Linked DNA regions of Homo sapiens: region 1 is linked to region 2. The links come from fine-mapping of genetic effects on plasma protein levels. A gene starts in region 2. The other region holds a variant in brackets. All regions are shown on one strand. Distances are from middle to middle.

Region 1 (2,907 bases), 37 kb after region 2:
TAATTCACTATGCAGAATCTGACTGAGATGTCAACAACCCACACTGTTATACAGATATGACGGCAGGTGGGGGAGCTGGGGAGGACACTTTTGTCTGCATGACTCTAAAGATCTGCCTGTTTCCCCTCCACTGTGCTGTCCTCCCTCAGCTATGGCTGGAAGGCTGAGAAACAAATCCACTACAGTTGGGGAAAAGGAACGACCACATTGTGAGCATCCGCTATGTGCCTGTCACTCTGGATATATCGTTTAAAGGATATAAAGTAGCCATTGAATTAGTGTCTGCACTTTCTACATGGAGGGAGGGTTGAGATGTTTTAATTAGGTGACCCAGATGCATATTTAGAGGCTGTGAGTGAGAACACAGAGGACAGGAAGCATTTATAGGGTGGCGGTTTAGGGTTAAAAAGTTCGTATTTCAAGATACAGCAGGAGGCAAAATGGACAAGGCCAAGGAAGAGTGGAAGTGGAAATACTATGTCTCAGAGAGCAAGGGGTATAGTATTTTTCCTGAGATAGGATTGAAGAAGGGGCAATGGATAAAGAGATACATTCAAAGATGGAGAGAAGAGCATTTGGAGAATCTATCCCCAGCAGGTTTTTACCAAAGCCAGTGGGTCCAATGATGAAGGTTACATTAGATCATTTCAAGGGTTTGGTGTCATAAAACACAAGAGACAAACTGTTTCTATTAGTAGTAGAAATGGGAAGGAGCAAAACAGATACACACTAAGTAGGTGGGATGCCAGCAGTTCAGTATTACCTTTATAATAGTTACATAAAACAAGCCAGGAAAGAAAGTTAGTGAATATGGGCTCTGGGTCATTATAGAATTCATTTAGAGAAGAAGAATTTCAGTTAGTAGCCTTCCTGAAAAGAGATGATAAAGAGGCCAGGATTACGCCCAGGGTCTAAGTACCGGCTGAGTATGAGGAAATTGACTCTCCTCCAACTCTGGGGTAGAAGAAACATGATTGGATCAGAGGGAGAGAGATGATTGAGTCATTAGTTAGGCAAAGCAAGAGCTGACGACAATGATAAAGCACTAATGCATCCAAGAGATTTTTTTTCCCCACTCTAGTGGCAATTTTTTACACTTTAAAAAAAGAAAGTGAAGTCGACTGATTTGTCTTGCTGACTTTAGAAAGCATTTAAAAATCTTTTAATGACACTCGATTATGTTAAACGGTACATTTCTCCTCTTTAATTTCTGCTTGCCTCAAGTGTGTCCACCCACTTGTCCTAGTTTCCCTGATTAGGCACCTGGTGGCAACCAATGATGTGAGTTACAGGAATGAAAAGGCATAAAAACCTACTTTAGGTTTTACTGAAGTTCCAGGAGGCTGGGCGTGGAGGCTCCCACCTGTAATCCCAGCACCCTGGGAGGCTGAGGTGGGAGGATCGCTTGAGCTCAGGAGTTTGAGATCAGCCTGGGCAACATAGTGAGACTGTCTCTACAAGAAATAAAAAAATTAGCCGGTGTGATGGTGCACTTGTGTAGTCCCAGCTATTCGAGAAGCTGAGGTGGGGAGGATAACTTGAGCCCAGGAGTTCAAGGCTGCAGTGAGCTATGATTCAGCCACTGTACTCCAGCCTGGGCAAAAGAGTGAGACTCTGTCTCTAGAAAAAAAGGTTCCAAGAATGTCATGGGGAATTTTATCACTTCTATTCTCTGGACATTTCACTGGGACTAATTTCTCTCATAAATTGGATGGGTGTTTT[C/T]CTTGAACAGATTCTGGACTAAATTGGGAAGTGGTACCTAAGTGCCTTCTTTGCCTCTTTTCTGTGACTCATTTCCTGCTCTTCATGTCTCTCTCCAATCTGGATGTTTCATATTCTCATAAAGGCTTGTGCTCAGTGCCTGTCAACTTAGAAGACACCTCCGCTAATGTGGAGATAATAGCTAGCCCTCTAAGAGCTTAGCTTCTGGGATTCTTACAAGGGCCATTCAGAGACCTCACTTTGATTGAACTCAAATGAAACAATGTTTTTTTTTTTTTGGAGACAGGGTCTCACTTTGTCACCTAGGCTGGAGCACAGTGGCACAAATATACCTCGCTATGATCTCGAACTCCTGGGCTCTAGCGATCCTCCTGCCTCATCCTCCTGTGTGGCTGGAACTACAGGCATGCATCATCATGTCCAGCTAATTTTTTTCTTTTTATTTTTATAGAGACAGGGTCTTGCTATGTTGACCCTGGTCTCAAACTCCTGGCTTCAAGTGTTCCTCCTGCCTCAGCCTCCCAGGTCCTGGGATTATAGGCACAATCCACTGTGCCTGGCCTGAAACAAATCTTTAATGGTAAAATTTTAGGTATCATAATAGGTTGCTGGAGAAGTGTTCTGGATTAAGGAAACTTTGGGAGTCCTTTGAATTCTACCCTGTGAGAAGCTTCACACACTTAGAATTTCTGAGCTCACCAGACTCTGATGTCCTAGTTGCTAGGAGTTTAGAGTAACATGAAGCTGACACTTGGACACTGTTCTTTTCCTCTGTTAATCATCTATGACTAACCAACCACATTCTGCAGGACTTAAAAGTATTCTAGTAGCCAAATTAGCTAGTAGTCCTTAATGCTTTTAAGCATCAGAAAGTGAAAAATATCAAAGAACTATTGCTGCATTTGAGGAGCTAGAATGAAGTTTGGTTTGGCTTGAGGAGAATTGATGACACCCAGGAGTATGTGCTGGTTTCCATTTGGTTCCCATTCACAGGCAAACGGAAAGTACATACAGCCTGGGGTAGGTCAGGCCAGCAGATATTTAAGTTGTTCAGTAGTGGCTGGGCCTGGGAATATGGGGTGATTTTGAAGAATTAAGTTCTGCAAAAGATTCAAGAGTACAAAGCTGTCTTCATCTTAGTCAAATGCAGGCAATCAATCTGTCCTTTGCATGTAATAAACTGGG
Region 2 (2,907 bases):
TATTTTCTTCAATACTAAGAAATCAGGGCTGTGCACGGTGGTTTATGCCTGTAATCCCAGCAGGCCGGGATTACTTGAGCTCAGGAGTTCGAGACCAGCCTAGGCAACATAGTGAAACTCCGTCGCTATAAAACAAAACAAAACAAAACAAAAAACCAAAAATTGGCCAGGCGTGGTGGCACAGGCTTATAGTCCCAGCTACTTGGGAGGCTGAGGCAGGAGGATCGCTTGAGGCAGAGGTTGCAGTGGGCCAAGATCGTGCCACTGCCCTCCACCCTGGGCGACAGAGCAAGATCCTATCTTTTAAAAAAAAAAGTCTGTCTGGAAGTCCTTACTTTATATTTAATTGTCAAACTCCTTTCCCCCATCTCTTGACTTCACCTCTCTCTACATCCCCAAGCCAAGAATGATGAGAAATGGACAGATGTTAGCACGAGTTGGGTGCGCTTTGGGCATGGGGAAGTCTGAGGTCTCGGAAAATCTTTTCTACATATACACCCGGCCCTCACTTTCTGGACGCACGCAGCAAACTCTCAAAATAAAACCACCAAAAAGGAGAAGGGGGGGCGTCGCCCACCGCTCCTGGCATTCCGCGGCTGCCAACTCTTTCCCTCCCATCTGGCTCCTGGGATGCCCGCGGGGGAATCGCAGTGAGCAGCGCGGGGCGAGGCCGCCGCGGACGCCCCGTCGGATGTGCCCTTCGCTGGGCCGAGCGGCGCAGGGTTGGAGAGGGAAGCGCTCGTGCCCACCTTGCTCGCAGGTGCCCTTGCTGACCTGGGTGATGGCCTTCTCCCCGCGGCTCTCGGCCCTCTGGCTGGCGGCGCGCAGCTGGCAGCCGCTCGGGTAGGTGGTGCCGTCGCTGCCGCACACCGGGTAGCGGCTCTTGCACACGCACACGCCGCTTACACCCGGACCGCCGGCTGCTGCCCCGGCTTTACCCTTCCGCCTCTTGCGGCTCTTCACGCACTCCATGCCCGGCGCGCAGTACCCCCTGCCGGCGCCGCCACCCCCGCACGGCTCGCCCTCGCCGCGGGCGCACATAGGGCAGCAGCCGCACGCGTCGCGGGTCTCGCCCAGCAGGCAGCCCAGCGGGGGCAGGGGCGGGCAGGAGGCCGGCTCGCAGGGGCCGCAGGTGTCCGAAGAGGAGGAAGAGGAGAGGGGCAGGAGCAGGAGCAGCAGCCCAGCGGCGCCGAGGAGCAGGGCGCGCAGCGACGGCCGCTCCATGGCGGGGTGCGGTGGCAGCGGCAAGGGCGCGAGTGAGCCGTGTCGGGCCGGCCGGCGCCTTAAACCCGCCGCCCCGCCCGGCCTGTCCGCGGGAACCACACCCCGGGGCGGTGAGAGCACGGGGGCCCCGCCCGTGCCGCCCTCCCGGCCCCGCGGGGCCTGCGCGCGCGCTCCTGCTGGCGTCGGGGGGTGAGCGGGCACCCGGCGTGACCGGCCCATGGGCGCTCGGTCTCACGCCCGCTTCGCAGAGCTCACCCCGCCAGCTCCTGCTCGGTCCCCAGTCCCCTGCCCCGAGCCCTCAGGGATCGCACCGCAGTGCGAGCGGCTCTTCCACCCTCTGGTTTCTCCCCGTTTCCGGTCAATATATTTAAACTTCTTAACAACCACGGCTTCGAGACGATCCAGGGTTTCATCTATTAAATCCTCCGTGGGCCTGAGACACCTGAGTGCTCATTACTCTGTGGTTTGGGAAGCTCTCTTAAGAACAAGCTGTTAAAAACCCCCACTTGTGGACTGTGTCCCCGCTGGCCACAGGCCTGCTGTGGTCTTGGGTGTCAAGCACTAAAAGGACAAACCGTTGCCAACCACTTCCCTTTCTGGAACCTCTTAACTGCCTGCACCTCCCTCCCCGCTTTGTCTCCCAGTGGCATTCAACAAGACTCTGTGCTTTTTTTGTGCTGAGCCGTTTTCAGTGAGTACTGGAATCCGTGTGAGAGCTGTGCCCTTGTTTTGAGTTCTTGCTGAACTGCTCGCCCTCCAGCAAGCCTCTCGGGAGAACAGAGCGCAGCTGAGAGGAGCAGGGGTCCCAGCTCCTTCCTCGTTGGAGCTGCCACGGAGGCACCTAAAGCGCCCCCAGTCTTCACCAGCATTCCAGGAGGTTTTTGATATAAACGGTGGACTCTTCCTCAGTCTTTCTGCGAAGTGCTCTGCAAACTCAACTTGAAAGCCTCTCTTCCCAGGAACACTGGCCTCTCCAATGCAGACATGGAAGTTGCTTTCACTTTTTAACTGAATGTGTAACATTGCAGCGTGCATTATTCTGCATGTCACATTGTGGTTCTTTTGTGTTCTTTTTTCTTAGCATAAATCCAGGGATTTACAGGGTTGCTGACTGAAAGCCAGCAGTTCAGTTCATAATCCCATTAGCAGTGTAAAGAACTCATTCTCAACAGACTCTTACAAGGATAATTATTGCAAATTTTTTGAAAATTAAATGACCACAAAATCGGGGGGTGGAGAGTGGGGAAACATCCTCCAATCCAGAAAAACCTAGCACTGCTTTTTGGCCTCTCCTTAGTGTATTATAGACAAGTGGAGCATTTTTTTTCCCCTCAAAGGTCATATGTTGACCTGACAGTTGTTTAAAAAACAATGAAAAATCTTTACAGCAGAGTTTCCCTAAATATTTTTGTCTTTGTTCCATCCTAAGAGATGCAGTTTACATGACCCATTTGTTTTCTTGAAAAGGAAACAAATGCAGAGTGCACTCTATTTCCTATTGTATTTAATTTCTTTCTTTCTTTCTTTTCTTTTCTTTCTTTTTCTTTTTTTTATTTTTTTGAGATGAAGTCTCCCTGTGTCGCCTAGTCTGGAGTGCAGTGGTGAGATTTTGGCTCACTGCAACCTCTGCCTCCCAGCTTCAAACAATCCTTCTGCCTCAGCCTCCCGAGTAGCTGGTATTAC

Which allele goes with the higher level. Positions count from the first base shown, and alleles are read on the strand shown. Strength reflects both the effect of a copy and how common the allele is.
For the plasma level of the protein whose gene starts at base 1,258 in region 2, allele C in region 1 goes with a higher level than allele T (weak association).

What was found. PIP is the posterior inclusion probability: the model's chance that the variant is causal. Protein levels are from antibody-based Olink assays in UK Biobank. Linkage for the fine-mapping came from a reference panel and not from the study's own genotypes, which makes the PIPs less certain.
Region 1: its variant is fine-mapped to the plasma level of the IGFBP7 protein (UK Biobank, PIP above 0.99).

What each region holds. Positions count from the first base shown.
Region 1 is chr4:57,146,575-57,149,481 of GRCh38, forward strand. All of the region lies in intron 1 of IGFBP7-AS1 (IGFBP7 antisense RNA 1), which reads left to right. Among named protein-coding and RNA genes, the nearest start is that of IGFBP7, 38 kb to the left of the region's middle. The variant C/T (reference allele first, on the strand shown) is at 1,723.
Region 2 is chr4:57,109,128-57,112,034 of GRCh38, forward strand. IGFBP7 (insulin like growth factor binding protein 7) reads right to left here and starts at 1,258. Exons shown (of 5, transcript NM_001553.3): 1 at 750-1,258. The coding sequence starts at 1,224. It overlaps IGFBP7-AS1 (IGFBP7 antisense RNA 1), which reads left to right and starts at 635. Exons shown (of 5, transcript NR_034081.1): 1 at 635-843. RefSeq lists a silencer at 1,327-1,396.